Linked DNA regions of Homo sapiens. The protein of the gene in region 1 purifies or fractionates together with the protein of each later gene. This does not show direct contact. Each region holds a gene or a part of one and is shown on either strand. Other genes may lie near its edges. The genes, in order: PSD2 and NMT2.

Region 1 (3,812 bases):
GGAGGGAGAGGAAGGGAGGACTCGCCTGGGGAGAGATGAAGAGACGCTACATAACACAGAGATTGGGGAGGGGGTGGGGAGGAAGGCCACAGTTGGGGAGGCAGAGAAGGAGAGGAGTTGGGGGGCCTGGACAGAGAATGTGAGGACTTAGAGGGTTTGGGGTGTGTGAAAACTGGGCAGACAGAAGGGAGGAGGAAGCTTCTTGGTTTCTGTCTCTTGGCTGTTGAAGCAGACTGTGGGGAGCTACTCAGAGGTGGAGCTCTCTCAGGTCTGCCTCTGCCCAGGTGTTGTATCCGAGGCTGGGCTGGTTGGGAGGATTTGCACTTGGTCAGTCCATTGTAGCTCTCAGGATTCAACTCTCAACCCACAGGCTCATGTTAGCCTGTGGGCTCCATGAGCCTGTGGGTTGAAGCAGTGTGAGTCCAGTGCCCTCCGAAGTTGGAGGAAGGTGGCCCAGTGGTCAGTCTGGCTGTGAACTCTCTTGACCAAGACAGCTTAGTCCTTTGTGGTTCCTGATAACTGAGGGTTCACCCCGTAGGGAAGTCAGTTGGGCATAGAGTCACCAGCTGTAAACATGATTTGAAATTTGACAGCAGACTTTGTGGATTTCATTAGTGTTAAGGGCTCTTCAACCAGCATGCAGATGTACGCAAATGCTAAGCAAATGAGGGTGCCAATTGGCTGGGGGGTTGGGGAGAGAAGCAAGCTGGGAGATGTCTAGGAATGACCTTTGTGGAGCAAGCTCCAAGGGCCCCTGAGAATCCCAGCAGAGCACATGCAGGATAAGATGCAAATGTGCATGCAGCCCCGGGGACTTCTGCCTGCCTGACCATGAGAACATGAGCCCAAGGCAAGGGCTGGTTCCCTGATGGCCACACTGAGAGAAGGAAAGCAGGTGGGGGCTGGTTATCACTCCAAACAGGCATTACCTGAAAGGGATGGGCATCTTTAAAGAGGGCGTAGGTTCTTGGCCCTTGCCCTACACTTGTGTGCCCTGAGATGGAAAGATAGGAGTGAGCCTGGCCTTGGGTGAGGGTGTTGGGAGGGCAGGACAGTAGGGACCTCAGCTGCCTTGGGAAAGGGAGGGGATGCCCTCTCTGGCCCCCCTCCTGGCCCCACGGGAGTCTTTGATTTGCCTCTACCCTCTAGCTGGGCTTCTGAAGCCCCTGCCTCAGAACTTGCTCTGACAGCTGCCAAGGACGCATATCCAATGGGTGCTGGCTGAGTGGCCTGTGCTGTGTGCTGCTGTCCTGGGCATGGCACCCCTGGGGGTAGCCAGCTTGGTTCCTTGCAGCCCCCAGAAGGTTTTGGGAGGCAGCAGCCCTCCCTTGAGCACTGAACACATGCCATCTCCTTTAGTCCTCACAGGTGCCTTGAGAAGACAAATGCTCTTGGCACCCCCCATTTATGGAGGAGGACACCGAGCTCAGATAGACAGGCAGTTTTCCTGAAGTCACACAGCTTGTGGCTAGCAGAGCTTGGATTTGGAGCCAGGTCTTTCTGAGCACACAGGAAAGGGCACTGACCCACTCTCCCGGACTGTCCCAGTCTGAGGCCCTTGCAGCACAAGGCGGTCCAAGCTGGGAAGACCAAGTGGGTTAAGAGGGTTTAGGGTCACTTTGGGATGTGGAATCCGGGAAGTTCCCTAGGCTCCTGGGTGGGCGTCCCTTCCAAATTATCCTGGGCATCTCCCTGGGCAGTTGGGATGTGGAGGAGGCTGGCCTGGGCTTAGGGAGGGGGCCTGGAGCTCTTGGAGGTGGGAAGATCCTTAACTCCAGGCCCCTTGGTTGGCAGAGGCTACAAGGGAGCATGGTTAGGGGGGCCCAACTGAGGGCTTCCTGGCAGCACCCTACTGCCCATGCTGCCAGTGGCCTAGCAGGTCCTGTGGAGCCCTGGAGCACTCCAGGCCTGGCCATCCTAGGCCCCATTGCGGTGTGGGCATCGCTGTTCAGGGTCTGTTTTGACACTCCCTACATGCCACATGTTTGCATTGATCATCTCTTTTAAGTGTCTGTGTGTGTCTTGTGTGTTCATGTGTGTTCACATGTGTTTGTGTGTCTGAAGATCCTAGCCCATGTGCTAAAATCTGGGTGATCTAGGGAATCTTGGGTTGGGATTTTGGGGAAGAGTAGTGAACCAGTGGGGGTGTTCAGGGTGGGTTTCCAGGGGGCAGAGAATAGGTCCAAGAAAGATTTCTTTGCCAAGTAACCCTCATGGAGCTCTCTCCAAGTATCCAATGTTGGTTGGCAGGTCCTTGGAGACTGTCCAGATTAGGGTATGGAATCAAGGATGGATAGAGGGCTTTGAGCCTTTCCAGATATACTCTAAATGTTGCACACATTTGTGAGATTTCCAGGGCAGGATCTTCCATCAAGTGCACAAAGAGGTCCAGGACTTGGAACTGGTTAGGTATCAATGGTGCACGTGGGGACATGAGGTCAGAGAGGGGTTTTTTTGTGCCCAACTTCCCCTAGCCCACTGGAAGCAAAACGTGAGGGTCCTGGTGCTCCTAGATTTGCTTCCCTGGGTCAGCTGTGGTCTCAGCCTTGCCACCACACTGACATTCCAGAACAATTTTCTCTGATCCCAGTCCCTTCTGCATACCCAGGATGGTTTTGACCCTGGATGCCCGATGATGTAGATCTCGCTGCCCTTAACCTTGCCCATAGGCCTGCCAGTGCCTTGTCCACCTTACCAGGCAAATTAGGGGGATTGCCTCATGAGCGGCTGCCCAGTTCCCTCTGTGTGTGTGCGTGTGTGTGTGTCTGTGTGCATGTGTGTGTGCGTGCGTGTGTGCATGTCTGTGAACGTGTGTGTGCATGTGTCTGCACGTGTGCGTGTGTATGTGTGCGTGTGTGCGTGCGTGTGTGCATGTGTGTGTCTCTGTGTGTGTGTGAGTGTGTGCGTGTGTGTGTATTGTGCATGTGTGTGCGCATGTGTGTGTGCACGTGCGCGTGTGTCTGGGCATGTGTACATGTGTGCATGTGCCTACCCATACCTGTATTGTATGTCTGCTGTCAGGTCCTGCACCCATGCACTTGCCCCTGTGTCTTATAGAGCATGCTGGCCTCTGGAGCCCTCCCTGGTGGGCCCCACCTCCAGCCCTGCCCTTGGGTTTCCCACAGTCCCTGGCTTGGATCCCACCATAAAAGGGACCGTAAGATTATTTCTTTGACAATCTAGCATTCCATCAGAATCTCAGCCTTGCTGCTTTCCAGCTTTGTGACTCCGAGCAGTTCCTCAATCTCTCTTAGCCTCTGCCACAAATAGGCATGATGATAATCCCTGTTATTCATCTAACAAATACTTCTAAAGGCCTGCTGTGTGCCAAGCATTGCACTGGACTCTGGGGACACAGCCGTGAACATGACATAGTCCCCACCCTCACTGAACTTACATCCTAGTACAGAGATAGGCAGGGAATCAGTAAACACATAGAAAAGGGAGCTTCAGTTCTACTGAGTGCTATGGTGCTCCATCACTCCATGATGCAGTGCCAGGGGTCAGAGAGGGCCTTTCTCAGGAGGCAGTGTTGGAGTTGAGCCCTGAGTGGCAGAAGAAGCTCTTTTAAAGATCTAGGGAAAGAGCATTCTAGGCCACGGGTATAGCTGGTGCAAAGGCCCTGAGGTGGGAATGAACTCAGGGAGCGGAAAGAAGGCCACTGTGGCTGATGTGGGAGAGCATGGGGACATGGGGTAGAGGGCAGCAGAACCAGCTCCTGCAGGACCTTTTCAGGCCATGCTGGGGAGACTGGATTCTAATCTAGGGGAGATGGTTAGAGGATTATGAGGAGGGAGGAAGGATTGTGCTTT
Region 2 (3,812 bases), on another chromosome or scaffold:
GAATAAATCACTCTGAAGTCTTCTTCATGGAGTTGGTCATTTTGGTCATTGGGTCATGTGGAACAAAGATGCTGATTCATGTCTGTTGCAAAATAGTTTGAGTTTGATATATTACTGTTAGAAGATTTAACTCAGAAACCAGGAAAGAAATCAAGGAACAAAAAATTAAATCAAGAAAGAAAAAGTACCATGACAAATTCATTATAGTCATTGTAGTTCTATTTTTATAAGACTGGGCTCTACTTTGCCATTTTAAGCTAAACTGATGCACAGTTAAGCATTATTAGTTGAAATATGCTGTGATCTCAATTCCTATTTAAATTGTAAGGTCTTCTAATAGATGGTGTTGTTGGAGTTCAGATACACATGAATTTCATTTTGCTAGAAATTTGCTCCTTTTAATGTTGGGGACTTAAAAGACACCCAAGGAAAAGAAGTCATCCAAAGATATAATAATGAGAACCGGAAAAGTATTTTGTTAAATTTGTATGTGTCATTAAGATAGGACCTTTATGATTTTGATGTTAAACAAATGTAAGATAAACAGCTTACAAAAACTGTGGCCATCTTGGATTGTGCTGTGAGACTTCCAAGCAGAGACAAAAAGACTTTCACCTGCCTCCAGCTGGACTTCAGAACTTCGTTTCCTTAGGGTTCTTGACAGTGTTTGTATGAAACAAACCCTGTTCTGTGCTGTGTACGATGAGTAAGCTTCCCAAGTTAAAATTATTGCTCCACACCACAGATTTCAGATTCCAAGTGGAACAGAAGTCCAAAGTTGCTGTTTATAAACTTCTAAGGGTCGATTGTACCTTTCAATGGTGTCCACCCTGTGTTGACATACAGCAAAACCGAAGGGCTCTTGAAACTTCTAACCACTTTCTGAATTACAGCGAAGAATATTCTTTGCATGGTATCAAAGTTCTACAATGTCTCAGTAATTTTACATATTGAAAAAAGTCATTGATTTCCATATTCAGTCCTCTGCGCTGTCTTCTCATTTCAAGTAGTCTCATGTTCCATGTATTATTACGTTATTTGAGGAATTAAAAAAAAAAAAAAAAGAACTGGGGAATCTCCAAGAGCTGGCGGGAATATTGGCTTTGAGAAAGGAACCTTAGAATTCAAACGTAATGTTTTACCTAAAAAGGAGTCCAGTTTCCAACACTTGGGCTGGGAACGACAGGCTATGGTTGCCCAGGATCTGAAGTACAGAGGAAATTGCTTGTCCTTCTGGTGGGAGAGTTTGTCTCTAGAGGATCAGGAGGATCAGGAGGGTCAGGAGAAGGGCAGGGTGTGGCCGGGAGGAAGGGGCATGGTTAGAGATTTCTTTTCTTGATCATTTTCATCCCAGTTCAGCACTGAGTTCAGATTTCCCTTCCTTCCTTCCTTCCTTCCATCTGTCCTTCCTTCCTCCTTTCCTCCCTCTCTCCCTCCCTCCTCCCCCTGTCCCTCTCCTTCCTCCTTCCTCCCTCTCCCTCTCTGTCTCTCCCCCCTACCTTCCTTCCTTCCTTCCTCCCTCGCTCCCTCCCTCCTTTTTTCTTTTCTTTTCTTTCTCTCTGTCTCTCTCCCTTTCTCTTTCTCTCTCCTTCTCTCTCTCTCCCTCCTTTCCCTTCCCTTCCCTTCCCTTTCCCTTCCCTTCCCTTCCTTTCCCTTTCCCTTTCCCTTTCCTGACAGAGTCTTGCTCTTGTCACCCAGGCTGGAGTGCAATGGCGCGATCTCAGCTCACTGCAACCTCCACCTCCCAGGTTCAAGCGATTCTCCCTCCTCAGCCTCCCGAGTAGCTGGGATTACCTGCCATCATGCCTGGCTAATTTTTGTATTGTTGTAAAGACAAGGTTTCACCGTGTTGGCCAGGCTGGTCTCTTAACTCCTGACCTCACGTGATCTGCCCACCTCGGCCTCCCAAAGTGCTGGGATTATAGGCGTGAGACACCACTGCCGATCCTCTCTCTTTCTTTCTCTCTCTCTTTCTCTTTCTTTGTTTTCTCTCTCTCTCTTCTTTCCCTCCCCTCCCCTTCCCTTCCCTTCTCTGCTGTGTTTCCATTCTAGAAGTTCTTTCCTTCATCCCCTCGTTGCTCCTGCAGAGCATTTACTCTGACAGTGCCCCCCACCCAAGGCTCGTGGCTGCCTGGCTGTTGGATGACAGTAATGCATGCACTGCACGTCTCCCCCAGAGGAGTAATGCCGGGGACCATTTGTAGATGGATGGGAAACTGAAGCAAAGCGTGCTTCAATTTAGATTCCCCAAACTGCCAGAGCCCCAATAAAACTAGACAACTGTTGTTACCTTTAACAGAGGGTTTGCTTCTATTTTCATGTGTAACACACAAGCCCATGGCCTTGACTGGGCTTGGAGGAGGATTGTTAGTGTTTAGGTATTGTAGTCTCTGAGGCAGATGCACGTGCGTCTGCTCAAGTTTAACATCAGCAGCCGCTCTCTCATATTCTGTGTCTGTCTTTGCTGTCGTAGAATCCCAGTGTTCCAATGCAGAAGTTGCAGGATATCCAGAGAGCAATGGAGCTGCTATCCGCATGCCAGGGCCCAGCCAGGAACATTGATGAGGCTGCAAAGCACAGATACCAGTTTTGGGACACACAACCGGTACCAAAACTAGGTAAGTTTTTCTGCTTTTCTCTTTTTTTCCCCACAAACAAAGCTGGATGAACAACAACAACAACAACAACAACAACAACAAAACACAAAGAGTGTTAACTTCACATGTATCATTTATTTCATACCACAGATTGGAAATCTATGCAAGACTAATATTTTTCTTCTGAAAATATAAATATTAGATAGTGACATTGGCTTTTGATAACCATTATTTTAGTCCAATTTCTATCCCAATAAAAACATCCAATTTCCCCACACTTGAAACATTACTAGTATTATTATTATTTTTGAGATAGGGTCTCACTCTATCACCCAGGCTGGAGTGCAGTGGCATGATCATAGCTCACTGCAGCCTCCACCTCCTGGGCTCAAGTGATCCATCCTCCCATGTCAGCCTCCCATGTATCTGGGACCACAAGTGCACACCACCACACCTGGCTAATTTTTGTATTTTTTTGTAAAGACGCTGTTTCAGTATGTTGCTTGGGCTGGTCTCGAACTCCTGGGCTCAAGTGATCCACCTGCCTTGGCCTCCCAAAGTGCTGGGTTACAGGTGTGAGCCACCGCACCTAGCCCATTAGAGTATTAAAAATGTATATAAGGTTCTGTGATGGAAGGACCAGGCCCTGAAGGTCCCTCATGGAGCAGGTGTCTGTTGAGTGTCTGTTATTAAATGCCAGGCATAGTCCAGGGCACACACCTGGAAACAGTGGTGGAAAAGTAGGACAAAAGGTGGCCAGGCTGGGGAGGAGCGGCCACACTGAGGTAGAGAAAGGCTTTAGTTAAGCAACAGATGCTGGGAGAAAGTGACGTGTGATGCGTAAGCTTCTGTCGGGAATTCCAAGGGGCCCGTCCCTTGAGGACCAGAGGGCCTCAAGCCTAAGGAAGGCACCAGGAAGGCCCTGAGCTGAGGCCTGCCCCGGTCATCATGGCCAGAGCACTGGGAGCAGGGGGCAGGGAGGGTGTGGAGAGGGGCCGAGGCAGGCAGCAGCCATGGGGAAGAGCCTGGGTTTTAGTCCTACCATGTTGGGAAGCTCTGCAGAGAAGGACTTGGAAAACTCTTCTTGGTGGAAATCACTAGAAATTGTGATGGCCTGAACTACGCTGCTAGCAGTTTAGATGGGGAGAAGTAACCAGCCTTGAAATTATTTTTAGGTTTTGCTGGGAGGGGCAGAGGTCACCGCAGCCCTTTCCT

The links.
Region 2: the proteins of PSD2 (region 1) and NMT2 purify together in Homo sapiens (affinity purification with mass spectrometry; one large-scale study listed by BioGRID and IntAct). This does not show direct contact.

Annotation. Positions count from the first base shown.
Region 1 is NC_000005.10:139,802,116-139,805,927, forward strand, and holds part of PSD2 (PH and SEC7 domain-containing protein 2), read left to right. Parts: intron 1-3,812.
Region 2 is NC_000010.11:15,134,080-15,137,891, reverse strand, and holds part of NMT2 (glycylpeptide N-tetradecanoyltransferase 2), read left to right. Parts: exon of another isoform or gene 1-2,473; coding exon 2,474-2,618; intron 2,619-3,812.